Linked DNA regions of Homo sapiens: region 2 is linked to region 1. The links come from fine-mapping of genetic effects on gene expression. Tissue or cell type: minor salivary gland. Region 1 holds a variant in brackets; the other region holds the start of a gene. All regions are shown on one strand. Distances are from middle to middle.

Region 1 (8,000 bases):
GTTGAAGCCGGAGAATTGCTTGAACCCGGGAGGCGGAGGTTGCAGTGAGCCGAGATCATGCCACTGCACTGCAACCTGGGCGACAGAGCGAGACTGTCTTAAAAAAAAAAAAAAAATCTGTCTCCTATTCAATTTCCAAAGAGAACCGGTACTGGTTAATCTCTGTTCCCTGATATCTTCATTCTCCCTAGTAATCATTTACTGTTCCCTGTCTCCTGCCTCCCCTCTGAAAAGAGGAAATGTGTGGCCGGGCGCAGTAGCTCACACTTGTAATCCCAGCACTTTGGGAGGCCGAGGCGGGTGGATCACCTGAGGTCAGGAGTTCGAGACCAGCTTGGCCAACATGGCAAAACCCCGTCTCTACTAAAAATACAAAAATTAGCTGGGCATGGTGGCAGGTGCCTATAATCCCAGCTACGTAGGGGGTGCTAAGGCAGGAGGATCGCTTGAACCATCGTGCCACTGCACTCCAGCCTGGGCAACAGAGCAAGACTCCATCTCAAAAAAAAAAAGGAAAAGAAAAGAGGAAATGTAAGTATCTGGGCCCCACCGGGATACTTGAGTAATCAGTCTGTGATTCTCCCACATGCATGTTAATAAATGTGTATGCCCTTTCTCCTATTAATCTGCCTTTTGTGAGCTGATTTTTCAGCCAACATTCAGAGGGCAAAGGGGACGTTTTCCCTTGCTCCCTACAGTAGCTTTGAAGAGGGAATTCTATTTAGCCAAATCACCAATGTTAAGAGGCTTCAATATTTTCCTTCTTTATTATTCATTCATCCACTACCTCAAAAATGATATGCAGCAGCAAAAAGCCACTTTAGGTTTTTGGGGTTTTTTTAATGATATACAGATTATTGAAGAACAACTAAAAAATAAAAATAAAAACAGGCCAGGTGAGGTGGCTCACGCCTGTAATCCCAGCACTTTGGGAGGTGGGAGGATCGCCTGAGCCTAGGAGTTCAAGACCAGTCTGGGCAACATGGCAAAACCCTATCTCTACAAAATACCAAAAACAAAAACCTCACTGCCCATTAAAAAAAAAATGACCAAAAAAGAAAGAAACTAATTAAAAATGGGCTGATAGGTATCAGAATGTATGTATCAGATATGTTTTCAGAAATGCTTCTGGAAAGTCAGTTGAGTTCCAAAACTCTGTGTCTAGTCGACCAGGGTCAAGGTCAGCAAGAAAGGAAAGGCTTGTTTCCTTCCTTTGCCTTGGAAATCACATCACCACTTAGGCATTGCTCCACCATGGTGAGCGCCAATTTATCCCTCCGTGGTTTGGGATTACCACTAATTCTGTCACTAATTACTACAGTTGAAGCAGTGATTAACATTTCAAAAAGGGAACAGCACTATGGATTTACTATTAAGAGACCCAGATTCTGATTACTGCAGGGATCTCCTGATTCTTGGATGATAAAGGAGCCAAGAGGCAGGGGGAGGTGAAGACAGAAGCCCGGCACAACACGAAGGGGCAGGAAGTGGACTGGGGGTTGGGTATCCAAGTCCTTAGCATCAACAGCAATGTCTTTGCGGGGCTGTAGGGACCATTGCAAGCGAAGTGTGGGCTCTGGGGCACATGAACTGAACCCACCCATAAATATTTGGAATGGGGGGGTGCCGTTTCTATGAATCTCTAAAAGGGGGTGAAAAATACATTTCACAAATGAGTATGAGTTCTAAGCCTTGTTTGGAGGAGTAGCCAATATGGCAAATGGCTGGATTTCTACTGCACTTGGATCACACCTTGAGACTCTCAATCCTGGAAACAGTTTGTGAAGGAGAGGGAGAGCACCCCTGCTGACATAGGTCCCTGGGACACAGCTGGCTTGAGAGCAGGGCCCAGTGGGTAGGAGGCAAAGTGTCTCCTCCCCTGTGTCTGCCCTGAGCCAGTCACACAGGGCCAGGTGCCTCGCAGGGATCAGGTAGCCTTCTGAGCTCTCCCAAGCAAAGCCAAAGCAGGTGCTCTCCTGGGTGCTGCCCATACCCCCTCCCCTCCCCGCTCCTTCCTCTTCTCTCAGCTGGAAGCAGTCAGAGCCATGCCTCTGCTACATAGCTCTCCTCATCCTGGAAAGGTTCCAGTGCTCCTGGCTGTAGGTGACATCCATGGCTGGGAAAAAGCAAGAGTGAACTATATATAAAGTTCTTTCTTCTCCAGCCAGAGACAAGCGAACACACCCAGGGTAGACCACAGTCTATTCACTCTGATGGCCAGAATCTCTTCAGTAGTTCTTAAAAAGCTAGAAGTAGGTGCTAGTAATCAACACCTAAACAAAAGGGTGGAGGTGGAGTAGGCTTACATCAGAGATATACATGCTAATATGTGAGCATGAAGTAGACCCCACCCGTGGCCACAGTGAACAGCACAAGGCCTCTTTATCAGCGTCCAAATCTCATTCAGGATGACTGCAGGCAGAGAGCAGAGGTCTTTTCCTGCTGCAACCAGCCTACTCCCACTTGCCCATCTTTCAAGAACATCAGTTGCAACAGCTGCAGTTTCCTGGCGTCCATTTTGCAGGCTGCATACAAGATGCCCCAAATCACTCCTTTAAATAAGAGCCTCGAGAGCAGGGAAGAAATCGCAGGGGTGTGTGAAAGCTGTACTCACTGGTCGTGTACTCACAACCCCAAGGGAAACCTGACTTCCTCCTGCTCTCCCTCCCTCTGCTGCCTACAGCAGGTGAGCCCCACCCTAGAGCACAGAACACAGCTAACAGGGGATTCCTGTGAGGGCGCCACGCTGGAGCAAGCACAGCATTCACCTCCACAAACTAGTAACTGCGGGTCTGCCGGGAAGAACAGCTTCCACTGAGCAGGCCAGACTGCGACTTCTCAGTCTCCGCTCAGCCAGGTGCAGGGGCTGATACCACTCCTCTGGGGAGGAGAAACAGACAATCCTCAGGGGGCCCTCCCCCAACGCCCCACTGCAGGGTATGAGCCACAGGATGCAGAGTGAAAGGATACAATTTTTCTTTCAATTCTACCTCCCCTCTGTATTTCTTTGTTTTGGGGGCTGCCTCAATTCTGCATCTGTGAAATCTGTCCAAAGGGGGTCTGGAATCTCTGCCTTTAAGTCTGAGACCCACCTGTCCATTAGGATTGCTATTATCTGGGATAAGAAGAGAGGGAAGCTTTGATTCCCTGATGGAGAGATTTCCCTAAAATGAACCCTTCATTTGTTCTGGAGTTCTTCATGTTCTGAAGACATAAGAGCAACCCACACAGTATCTGCGAGACCCATAAACACTACACTTTCTAAAGTATCACAAGCCACTAGACAGTAAAGTCAATGACAGCAGGTCAGCCTTGCCCAACCATGGTATCCCCAGTGACTGGCATAAGGTCTCAGTAGACACATATTGGATGGATGGATCAGCGGATGGATGGATGGATGGATGGATCAGCAGATGGATCAGCGGATGGATGGATGGATGGATGGGAGAGCAGATTGATGGAATGGTGAATGAATGAATGAGCAAATGTATGAACAAATGAAGTTAGAAGGAAGATTTCACAGAACATTTAGCCCTCAGGGTTCAATCTCTGGGTGACAGACTTACCAGAGCCATCAGGAATGGACCTTACGAATGTTGGCAACATCTTGACTGTGGCTGTTGGATTAAAATCCCGGGAGAGGCCATTCTTCATCTCCTTCCTGAAGCGAGTCATGATATCTATGAGAGTTTCATCGGAGAGCCGCATGGCATAGAGATACTTGTCAATCTGGAGGGGGATGAGAAGGAAGGAGAGTGAGGTCGAGGGGGAGGACAGGGCAAGGTGAGGCACCCACCCGCTGAGATAGCCAGCTCCCACAGGCACAGGAACACGCACGCTGGCACATCGCATGGCGGAAGGTCATTCAACTGCTGTCATCCATGTCACCCAGAACAGGCTTGCAAATGCTCTGAGCCCTAGTTCCTGGCCTGTAAAATGAACCCGATATCTCTAAGATCCTTTCCAACCCTCAAATATGACATGGAAGCTGCTCTTCAACCCCCAAGTACTTGATGGAGGTAGGTTTCCTCCAGTATCAGGAACACCTCAAGCCTCCTTCTCTCTCTGAGAATTGGCTGGCTCACTCTCACTGGGATGGGAATGACAGAGAGGCTACGAACAAGGGCTCTGGAGCCAGCCAACTGGGTTCAATCCTAGCCCCAGAGCTTAACAGCTGTGTGAATTTCAGTTTCCTCAACTGAAAAACTGAGATGATAGATAGGACCTAACATATAGGACAAGTTCAAATGAGACACAAGCACTTAGAACACAGTAACTGCTCAATAAACATCAGCTA[T/A]TATTATTAACATGAGACAGTAGTACTGGCAGGTGTCCATGGGCAAGACTTCTAGAAAGACAGAAATGGCGGCCAAAGGGCTAGGACCCTTCTGAGAACACAGGGTGGCAGGCCCAGAGCACAGAAACCTTAAACCCAGCCTCAATGAATGGAGACAGCCCCTGGGCTCCCATACCCATGTGCCGGGCCTGTGTGCCAGGCCATGGGCCCTGCACCTCCGAGTCAAACTACTCCCACCCTTCACCAGGCCTGACCCAACCTGCTCCTCTTCCTGAGTTCCCCGTTCTCCTCAAGCTGCCCAGGCTCCTAACCTTAGGCACCCTGGGTTGTCACTGGCTATCACTAATTGTTTGTCCTTCATGGCATCTTCGCATTTATTCTCCCAAAAAAGGATTCACTGGGCACCAGCTAGGTGCCTAGAATTGAGCTAGACACCTGTCCTGATGGCACTATCCCTGTAGAGTCCACCGAGGAAGGTTCTTTTGTTTCACCATCCACTCTTTCTGCTGCTCTGTGTGCCTGGATTGCTGATGATCCACTGTAACAGTTTATCTTCAATCTCTTCCTTCCAACCCATCTTCTACACCACTGCAGCATCAGCCTCTTAAAGTGCAACCCTAATCAAGTCATGCCTCTGCCCAAAGCCTTGCAATGCCTCCCCACTGCCAAGGCACCTACCCTCTGCAGGTGTGGCTCTGTGCTCTCTGAACTCCGGCCAAACCACCTCTACCATTCCTAGTAGGTGCTCCAGGCTCTCCTCCTTCTGCTGTCACCTCTACCTGAAATGCCCTTCCTTTTCTTCCCAGCTCACCTAACCTTCAAGGTTCAAATCAACTGTCACTTCCTCCTGAAGATGTCCAAGTCCTTCAGGCTGGATATCACCACTCCTTCAGCACTGACCCCTAGGCAGGGTCTGGTCTGGATCCCAGCTTTCCATGCGTGTCACCCTGACCTCCCCAGTGCCTCACATGGAGCCTTGCACACAGAAGGCTCCCACTGGATAGAGAGACAGATTTACAGCCCCACAAGGCTGAAAAGACCTTAACACTGGTGTTTTTTCCTTTGTTTGTTTGTTTGTTTGTTTGTTTGTTTGTTTTTGGGGTTGGTTTTTTTTTCATAGTCTATCTCTGTCACCCAGGCTGGAATGCAGTGGCAGAATCTTGGCTCACTGCAACCTCCACCTCCCAGGTTCAAGCAATTCTCCTGCCTCAGCCTCCTGAGTGGCTGGGATTACAGGCGTGCGCCACCACGCCCTGCTAATTTTTGTATTTTTAGTAGAGACAGGGTTTCACCATGTTGGCCAGGCTGGTCTCAAACTCCTGACCTCAAGTGATCCACCCACCTAGGCCTCCCAAAATGTCTGCCAACACTCTCTGCGCCCAAGGATGATCCTTGCCCCCACTCCTAACCACTAGCCCTACCACCTTTTTCCCTTTACAATAAAGCAGCTCAAAGAAGGGCAATCAGGAACCACCAAGAGCCAGAATAGAAATTGCCAGAAGAGGCCAGGCATGGTGGCTGACACCTGTAATTCTAGAACTTTGCAAGGCCAAGGCAGCAGGATCATTTGAGCCCAGGAGTTCGAGATTAGCCTGGGCAACAACCCTGTCTCTACAAAAAATAAAAATTAGCCCAGCATGGTGATGCACACCTGTAGTCTCAGCTACTCGGGAGGCTGAGGCAAGAGGATCACTTGGGCCCAAGAGGTTGAGGCTGCATTGAGCCATGATTGAACCACTGTACTCCAGCCTAAGTGACAGAGTGAGACTGTCTCTAAAAAAAAAAAAAATTAACAATTGGCCAGGAGCAGTGGCCCACACCTGTAATCCCAACACTTTGGGAGGCTAAGGCAGGCAGATTGCTTGGGGCCAGGAGTTCGAGAGCAGCCTGGGAAACTTGGCAAAACCTCGTCTCTAAAAAAATACAAAAATTAGCCAGGCGTGGTGATACGCCCCTGTAGTCCCAGCTACTCGGGAGACTGAGGCGGGAGGATTGCCTGAGCTGGGGAAGCAGAGGTTGCAGGGTGCTATGATCCTGCCACTGTACCCCAGCCTGGGTGACAGACTTAGATCCAGTCTCCAAAAAAAAAAGAAAGAAAGAAATATGTATATATATTTTTTAAAGGAAATAAAATTGCCAAAAACATGGCCCTGGGAGGAGAGACAAGCCATGCCCTATTCTGGCTGGTGGCATTCATCAGCAGCCCTTGCCATCATAGTGCCCTGGGTCTGCAGGGAGAGACAGCCACGTTGCAAGCATGGGAGAGAAGGCTTCCTGGAGAGGCGAAGTTGGAGAGCATGCCCAGGCACAAGCAAGGGCATGTGTGAAGTCCGAAGGGGAGGGAGGGTGGTTTTTGTGATGAACAAGCAGACGGTGTGCCTGGAAAGACTGTCCAGAGCTCAACCACACAGGGCCTGATGAGCCACATAAACAAATACAAGCGGGATCCCACAGCACAGCGAGCCTTGGGACGGCTTTACTGATTACAACCATGATGAGAGTTGTGTGTCTGCTGCGTGGAGAATGGAGGAGCAAGCGCAAGATCATACAATAAAAGCTACATTGCTAGCTGGCACAGTGGCTCATGCCTGTAATCCTGGCACTTTGGGAGGCCGAGGCAGGAGGATTGCTTAGGCCCAAAAGTTCAAGACCAGCCTGAGCAACATAGTGATATCGCACCTCTAAAATATTTTTTAATTTTAATTTTAAGGCCGGGAGCAATGGCTCATGCCTGTAACCCCAGAACTTTGAGAGGCCGAGGCGAGTGGATTACCTGAGGTCAGGAGTTCAAGACCAGCCTGGCCAACATGGTAAAACCCGGTCTCTACTAAAAATACAAAAATTAGCTGGGCATGGTGGTGCATGCCTGTAATCCCAGCTACTCAGGAGACTGAGATATGAGAATCGCGTGAACCCAGGAGGTAGAGAAGATTGCAGTCAGCCAAGATCGCGCCATCGCACTCCAGCCTGGGCAATGCAGCAAGACTCCATCTCAAAAAATTTTTTTTAATTTTAATTTTAAAAAAGGTACATTGCTACTCCAGCATTTTGGACACGCCCCAACGACCACACTCCTCACACATCATGATTATCCTTTTACCAAGCTGTCCATCTCCTATGATACTGCGTGAGTTCCCCAGGGAAAGAAAACATATTGAATAGACCTTTGGAACTCACCCAGTTGCTTGACACAAAGGAGGAATTCAAACAATGCTGGATCCTGGAATAATACTATATAATTCTCTTGTGGCTTACAGTATATCAGTATATCAAGATCCAGTATGTCATTTAACCTTCAAAACTGTCTGGGAGATGTTCTTAATCCCCATTTTACAGACACAGAAACTGATGGTCCAAGAAGCTAAGTGATTAGTTCAAAGCACACAGCTGGGGGAGTGAGGTTTTATACCTGCAAGTCTAAGGCTCCTCCATACAATCATCCCTGCCCCTTAAGAAAGACTGGTCCCCTGCTCTGCAGAAGGCAGATCCAAGTAGAGCTGTTGGGGTTTTCCCGCTGGACAGGAGAAGCTTCTAGAAAAGGCAGCTCTCCATAACTCCACAGCTATCCTGCCTTCTAAGTCAAGGTGCAGCTCAGCACACAGACATTGATCCAAAAACCCCAACGTTTCAGGACAACCAAGCTAAATCCAAATAAAGCTTAGAAGCTCAAATCAAAAAGCAGGCTGCAGACACAGAGAACGGC
Region 2 (8,000 bases), 830 kb before region 1:
CAAACAGGAAGTTCATGCTGCTCGCTATGCCGGAAGTAATAACATAGTTTGTCTCTGATCCAGGAGTCCTGTGACTGCCAGCATCTGAGACTGTGTCAGGCTAACCTGTTAACCTGCAAGTTAGGTAGAACCCCAGAACCTCCACAGTTCTGACCACAAACACCTCACCCCATTTCCTACCACTCCTTCTGTTGCTCACCTTGCCTGGTCACACTGGCCTCCCAGATGTTCCTGGAAACTGCCAGGCACACTCCTGCCTTAGGGCCTCTGCTGTCAGCCTGGAACAGTCTACCCTGACAGCCATGTAATGTCCTTCATGTTCTTATCCAAATAGCACCTGGGTGGGGCCTTTCTTGACTTCTGTATTTGATTTAGTTAATTAATTAATTAATTTAGAGACAAGGTCTCGCTCTGTTGCCTAGGCTGGAGTGCAATCATGGCTCACTGTACCCTCAACCTCCTGGGCTCAAGCGACCCTCCTGCCTCGGTCTCCCAGTGTTGGGATTACAGGCATAAGCCACCATGCCCAGTCTGACTTCTCTATCTGAAACAGCCTTCCCACCAATAAACTGGTGAACTTTTGCCAATCTGACAGGTGAAAATGGTATCTCAGTAAGTTTCAAATTTATCTTTTATTTTTTAAAATCTATTTCTATTTCAGTATAGATATAACTATACAGAGATACATAGACAAATAAATGGATTTATATATTTTCTATATCTATTATTCTATAATATCTATATTTATATTTTCTATAGTATCTATATTTCTATTACTATTTTATTATGCTTGAGTCATTTTTGGGCCAGGCGCAGTGGCTCATGCCTGTAATCCCAGCACTTTGGGAGGCCTAGGCGGGCGGATCACTGGAGGTTAGGAGTTTGAGACCAGCCTGGCCAACAAGGTGAGACCTCATCTCTACTAAAAATACAAAGACCATGTCTACTAAAAATACAAAGATTAGCCGGGCTCGGTGGCTCATGCCTGTAATCCCAACTATGCAGGAGGCTGAGGCAGGAGAATCGCTTGAATCCTGGAGGCAGAGGTTGCAGTGAGCCGAGACCGCCACTGTACTCCAGCCTGGGTGACAGAGTGAGACTAGGTCTCAGAAAAAAAAAAAAAAAAGAAAAGTCATTTTTATTTCCTTTCCTATGAATTATCTGTTCTGAACTGTTGCCTATTTTCCTATTGTGTTGTTAGTCTTTTTCATACTTCTTACTTGCCTATGATGTGATTATTTTTCTCAACTTGTCATTTGTCTGAGTTTGCTTATGGTGTCATGATTGTTGTTATGCCATATAAGTTTTTAATTTTTATGTAGTTAAATTTGTCAATCTTTTCTTTTATGGCATCTACATTTTCTTTTCTTTCTTTTTTTTTTTTTTTTTTGAGATGGAGTCTCAGTCTGTTGCCCGGGGTTGGAGTGCAGTGGTGTGATCTCGGCTCACTGCAACCTCTGCCGCAGGGGTTCAAGCGATTCGCCTGCCTCAGCCTCCCAAGTAGCTGGGATTACAGGCGCCTGCCACTACGCCTGGCTAATTTTTTGTATTTGTAGTAGAGATGGGGTTTTACCATGTTGGCCAGGCTGGTCTCGAACTCCTGACCTTGTGATTCGCCAGTCTCAGCCTCCCAAAGCGCTGGGATTACAGGCATGAGTCACCACGCCCGGTCTAGATTTTCAATCATACCCAGAAAGGTCTTCTCATTGCAAAATTATAAGGAATCCATGCTTTCTTCTGTTTTTCTAGTACCTTTATAGTGTCATTTCAAAATACACACATCTTTTCATCACTTGAAACTTGTTTAGAGTAATAAACTTTTGGAGATTCAACCTGTAGGTTTTTTTGACTACCCAATTGTCTCAACCCCTTTTATTATTTATTAATTTATTTAACAACACATAACAGAATCATTTATTGAAAACAGTACTCTGGAAAAACTATGTGCACAACAATGCCTGTTTCACCCATTTTACAGTGGGTACATGGTGGTCTGGGGCATTCGTCAACTTGCTCAAGCCTTTAGGTAAGTAGAGTTTGCGGCTTTTCTGAGAATCTGCCTGCATGTTCCCTCCTTCCCCAGCCTCCCAAGCCATCCTGTGGTTCAGACACCTCCACCTCGTGCAGCCAGGCTCTCAACAAAGCCAGTAATCCAATGTGTTGGCTTGCACTGGGCTTGCATCTGTGTCTCCAGGATGCACAAGGGGTTCCAAGCCCCATGGACACATTGTCCCTGGTTTAGCTAAAGCTGGTGAGAAGCCTCAGAAGTGGCCTGACACCTTTCTGTGACAGGACAGGGTTCAAATTCAACATCTAAGACCCCAGGATGAGCGGAGGGTAGAGGGTGGTGAGCTTGCCCACTCAGCTCCCTGAGTATTGCTGGAGTCCCAGGTGCTACTTTAGTTTTATTTCTGCATGTACTTTAGTCATTTCTGTACTTTGCTCTGTTCCATTGTGTTTTTTGTGTGTGTGTGTTTGTGCATGTGCACGCACACCAGTTTTAATAACTTAGGCTCTATAATATGTTTTAATATCCAACAGGGTTAGTTCCCACCTCCTTGTTCTTCATTTTGAAAGCCTGTTTCTGGACTAGTTTTGTTTGGTTTTCTATACGAATTTTAGGAACAAATAGGGTAATTAAAAAAAAAGAACGAAACCACACACGACCTATTAATCCTATTAGTACTTTTATTGGGATTATGTTAAATTTAAATTTTACTAAAGGAGAATTGAGATCTTCATGAACCCACAGACGTCATTCATCTTTCCATTAGACTGTTTTATTTGTAAAATGAGAGTAATAATAGTACCAATCTCGTGGGACTGTCCTGAGAATTAAATGAGAAAATGCATGCGAAATATACTGGGGTGAACACGTTGCTTTGCCACTTAGCTGTGTGAACTTGGGCATGGTAGGTTATTCTGAACATTGCTCTCTCATTTGTCAATAAGGATAATACTAGCATCTGGAGTCACAGGACTCCAATGACGGTGAAATTAGACAAAGCGTGCAAAGTACCCAGTGCTCTGCCTGGAACATAAGTGCACAATAAATATTAGCTGTTTTTCTGTTTTTCTAAAACATAGGCCACCCCAGGGCAAGGAAGTGCGACTCAAAGCAAAAGCAGCTGGGCGCGGTGGCTCACGCCTCTCATCCCAGCATTTTGGAAGGCCGAGGCCAGCGGATCACTTGAGGTCAGAAGTTCGAGACCAGCCTGGCCAACACGGTGAAACCTGTCTCTGTAAAAATACAAAAAAATTAGCCAGGTGTGGTGACATGCGCCTGTAGTTCCAGCTACTCGGGAGGCCGAGGTATGAGAATCGCTTGAATCCGGGAGGTGGAGGTTGCAGTGAGCCGAGATCGCGCCACTGCACTCCAGCCTGGGCGACAAAGTGAGACTCCGCCTCAAAAAAAAAAAAAAAAAAAAAAAAAGCAAGGAAGAAAAAAAGCAAAAGCTTGGAGGGATCCACCTCAAGTGGAGGGCCCCAAGGTCAACTCATCTTTCCCAGGACCTATGTCACCGTCGGTACCCACTTCTGACTTTCCTGGTGCGTCTGGAATGGGAAGCCGCGATCCCGAGTGTACCAGGCCGCTCAGGGACTCCAGGACCCAGCCCCGGACCCAGGGTTCCGGCGCTGCCACGTCTCGCGCGGTCAGCTAGCCAGACGGGAGCAGGCGGGGCCGAGGCGGGGCCAGACCCCGAGCGCGCTTTGTCACGCCTTATGCCCGCCCCTCCGCGGCCCGAGTCGCTGGTGGGACGGCACCGGGGCAGAGAGGCGTAACGCTGTGAGGGGGCGGGGCCCATTACGCGCCCGGAAGTCCCGGGGAGGGGTGTGACGTACATCCGGCGAGTAGCTGGCGGTCCCGGGTGCTGCTGGTTAGTGTGCTCTGAGGGAGGGTCCGAGCCAGCCGCTGTTTTGCCGGAGGAGCCCCTCAGGCCGTGAGTCTGAGGGTCGCGTCGGGGAGGGGAGTTGGGGCTCGAGGGGCTGGGACGGAAGGCGGGGAGGTCGGAGCGGAGGCTGGCCCTGGCGGGGTTGGGTGGGGGGGAAGTGACACGCAGGCGGTTCTGTGGGGCCGCGGGGCTGATTCTGGGCGGGGACGGGACAACTTGGCCAGATCTGCTCCGTCCCCTGCTGTCCTCTTTGCCTGGGGTCCACTTGCATTCCGCTCGGGGGTCTCGCAGCTGCTGGGCCGGATAACAGTTTCTTGTCTGTACCGTGCGCTCCGGTTTACGAAATGGCTCCATGTCCTCTGTCTCGGAAGAGCCTCACAGCCCTCGGTGAGGCGGGTGGGAGCCCTTTATGATTATCCTTGTTTTGTAGACTCGGAGACTGAGGCTGGCCAAGGCTCCGCAGTTAGCGAGTGTGAGCGCTCGAACCTGGTCTACAGGCCCCTAGTCCAGGGCTTACCCCCAAGTCAGCGCTTGGTTGTCTTCCGATGGCCCGGGTCGAACCCTGTATTTTCTCCTTCTCCCTTCCCCTTTTCCCCTGTCTGGTCTCTGCATGGAAAAATTTCCTTATGTGCATTTGACATGGATTAGCGTTTTCTTCACGATTCTAGCCAGTGGGTCAGGAGCATCTTTGTCTTGTTGATTCCATCGGCTTCGGTTGCGACAGGGGGCTTAGGGAGATTCGCCATGGGGCTGACCTTTGACATTTACCCCGCAGCTAAGCAGAGTTAGCTAAAAGCCAGCCGCCTACTACCCCAAATCTGCCTGGAATGGCGTCTTAAAGTTGCCCTGATTATGTATAACAAGTAATGCGTAAATTTTTAAATTGGCTAATGGTCAGATTGGTGCCCTCCTTTTCTATTAACATTTGTTTGAATCATTTAGCCCTGGAATTCGCAAGTTTTCATTTTAGGTACATTAATAGTGTTTTGTTGATAGTTTAGAGACCTACCTTAAATTTTAGATTACTCTTAACTTCTCGTAAGGTGGTACAATGGACCAAGAATAGAAAATAAATAGAATGCTAGTTATTAAAATACCATTCAAAAGATGTGATGAGTTGTAAGGAAGAGAACTTCGGAAGATCATCCTCTGTGTAGTTGGTGGGTTAAAGAAGTTTTAGTTTTTTTTTTTTTCCCCAGCAATTTTGTGGTTTGGGTTTGAATTTTATGTACTGTTAACAGGAAGAGCTTAGGCTTTGGTGTTAGAGATGAGGGTTTAAGCCCTGGCACTATTACTTTTTCAACTGAGCCGTCTTAAAGGACTCAGCAAAACTAGGAGTATCCTCATCTTTATCTTGTTAAATGAGGCCAGTGATCCTTGCCTGGTAGGGTTGGTGTGGGGATGAAATGAGATGTACAAGTACTGTGCAGATTGTAAAACTACTGATGAGTTGGTACAAATCCTAAGATCTTAAGGAGAGAGGAGCCACCAAGGCCATTTTCAGCTGCTGAGGAGGCTGAGGTGGGAGGATCTCTTGAGCCTGGGAGGTTGAGGCTGCAGTGAGCCATGATGGCAACACTGCACTTCAGCCTTGGAGACAGAGTCTTGGTCTGTCTTAAGAAAAGGGGGGCGGGGGCATTTTCTTAACTTTGGGTAGCAGTGCAACCCGACTCTTTGGATCTAGTAAGGGTTTTTATTATTTTTAGCTCACCTGAAGAGTTTCTTCAGTCAGCCTCCACTCTCATCACTCCTTTACAACCCAACACTTCTATATACATTTGTACTACACTGGTTTTCAGTCAATACTTTACAGACTTGTAAAAAATGTTTACATCACTTTAGAAATTTTTCTTTCTTTCTTTTTTTTGAGATGGAGTTTTTGCTCTTGTTGTCCAGACTGGAGTGCAATGTCATGACCTCGGCTCACTACAACCTCTGCCTCCCGGGTTCAAGTGATTCTCCTGCCTCAACCTCCCGAGTAGCTGGGATAACAGGCGCCCACCATGCCTAGCTAATTTTTGTATTTTAAGTAGAGATGGGGTTTCACCATGTTGGCCAGGCTGATCTCGAACTCCTGACCTCAGGTCATCCACTTGCCTCGGCCTCCCAAAGTGCTGGGATTACAGGCATGAGCCAAGTATTTTCAACTAGATGAATTCTGCAAAGGTGAAAAGGAGAAAATGCCACACTTTAAATAGTTTTTCATGGCAATTGAACTACTTTAATTTTCCATTTTATTTTCCTTTGACACTCCTGCTTTTAAGCCATCTCCTCCCTTGGAGCATACAAATCAGCAGCAGCCGGGATTTAGCTACTTGGATGCTTTAATTCTTCCCTCCAAAATGATCTGAGTGGGAATGACCTTAATGAGGGGTGTGCTCTAAAGGTGAGCTGTGCTTCTCCAGGCAGTAGATTGAGAAAAGTATAGGAGGATGTTTGGTTTGAGGGAGTTGCAGAGGAAGGGCACATTGTTCTTTTACTTATTTACAGTAAATGGGAATTTCAGCACAGGAGCTTTATTAAGTATATTTAAGTTGTTGGACTCCTTAAAGTGCGGACTCAATTTCCAGAGAAAACTATTAGTTAATGTGATAAATGCAGTCTTTCTGCTGAAATATATTTGTTATTGAAAAGGCAAAAAAGAAATCACCTCATTTAGTATTTTTTCGTAAGAGCCTAGTATGTATCCACCCAAACTGCCAAACTTTATTTGGCTGTCTTTGGTAAGGGCCGTGAAAAATAAATATTAATTAGGCCCTAAAATTTACAGATTAGGCCATGGGCCTGATAAAAACCCAGTAATTGGATGAAAAACATACCAGCTCTACTTTTCAATTTACTCTTTTTTTTTTTTTTTTGAGATGGAGTCCTGCTCTGTCACCCAGGCTGAAGTGCAGTGGAGCGATCTCCGCTCACTGCAACCTCTGCCTTCTAGGTTCAAGCGTTTCTCCTGCCTCAGCCTTCTGCATAGCTGGGATTACAAGCAAGCGCTGCCGCGCCCAGCTGTTCATTTTATTCTTCATCTGGCATTCTTTGAATGTAAGGGGATTTTTTTGTGGGTAATGCTTTTACTGGTTACTGTTCATGAAAATTTTGAATGCAGTTGGTCATATCTAGTATAAAGCCCTGTGTTCAGATGCTCCTGCTGATGGAGAGGAGTAAAAGTGTGGACCTTCCATTTTTCTGCACCGCATCTGAGATACTAAAGCAAAAATTCAGCATGGCCAGACAATGCTGAGAAACCTTAAGACCCACCAGTGTGTCTAGATCCTACCCTCTTAATTTCATTCAGAGGTCATTTTGCTTATTACCAATATATGTAAACCTTTTAGTAGCTTTTGATAGCTATGAGAAACAATAGAAAAAGTAGTGTTAATATCAGTACCAGTTAAGTTATTTACTGGCTTGGGAACTTACTGCTATATCCTGAAAAGTATTCTTTTTTTGCTTTTTTGTTTCTTGAGACAGGGTCTTGCTCTGCCACCCAGGCTGGGGTGCAGTGACACAATCATAGCTCACGGCAGCCTCAAATTCCTGGGCTCAAGCAATCCTCTTGCCTCAGCCTCCCAAGTAGCTGGAACTACAAGCACGTGCCACCATGCCTGACTAATTTTAATTTTTTTTTTTTTTTTTTGTAGAGATGCAGGTCTCTCTATGTTACCCAGGCTGGTCTTGAACTCCTGAGGTCAGGGAGGAATCCCCCACCTCAGCCTTGCAAAATGCTGGGATTACAGGTGTGAGCCACGGGGGCCCGGCCTGAATAAGTATTCTTATTTTAAGAAAATCTATTTGTAAAATGAGTTTGGGTGTGATTATTCATGTATGAAAAGATTCTCTTCTTATCCCTTAATGGTTCTCTAAAATAGTGATGTCATTTCTTTTTATAAATTGAGACCCGTGTCTGCAAAAATGATTAAATATTGAGATAACATTGGTAAATGGAGCAGGGCAAGTGGTGCTGGCCAGTAGAATTTTGGGTGACTTTTGTTTTTTAGAGTTGTTTACAGGATAGATTAATATGTTTTTCATTCAAATCAATGTGCTTTTCATTCTTATTTTCTATTTAGTGCATCTAAGTGGCATTCTGATTCACATTATTGATAAGAC

Evidence for each region. PIP is the estimated chance that this variant, and not a neighbour inherited with it, causes the effect.
Region 2: SAR1A starts here. The variant in region 1 is fine-mapped to the expression of SAR1A in minor salivary gland (GTEx, PIP above 0.99).

What each region holds. Positions count from the first base shown.
Region 1 is chr10:69,339,556-69,347,555 of GRCh38, reverse strand. It overlaps HK1 (hexokinase 1), which reads right to left. Exons shown (of 18, transcript NM_000188.3): 2 at 3,567-3,729. Among named protein-coding and RNA genes, the nearest start is that of HK1, 25 kb to the right of the region's middle. RefSeq lists a silencer at 2,552-2,681 and enhancers at 3,286-4,139, 7,728-8,000. The variant T/A (reference allele first, on the strand shown) is at 4,298.
Region 2 is chr10:70,166,354-70,174,353 of GRCh38, reverse strand. It overlaps SAR1A (secretion associated Ras related GTPase 1A), which reads left to right and starts at 3,840. Exons shown (of 7, transcript NM_020150.5): 1 at 3,840-3,941. RefSeq lists enhancers at 3,346-3,425, 3,559-4,215, 4,216-4,874 and a silencer at 3,556-3,915.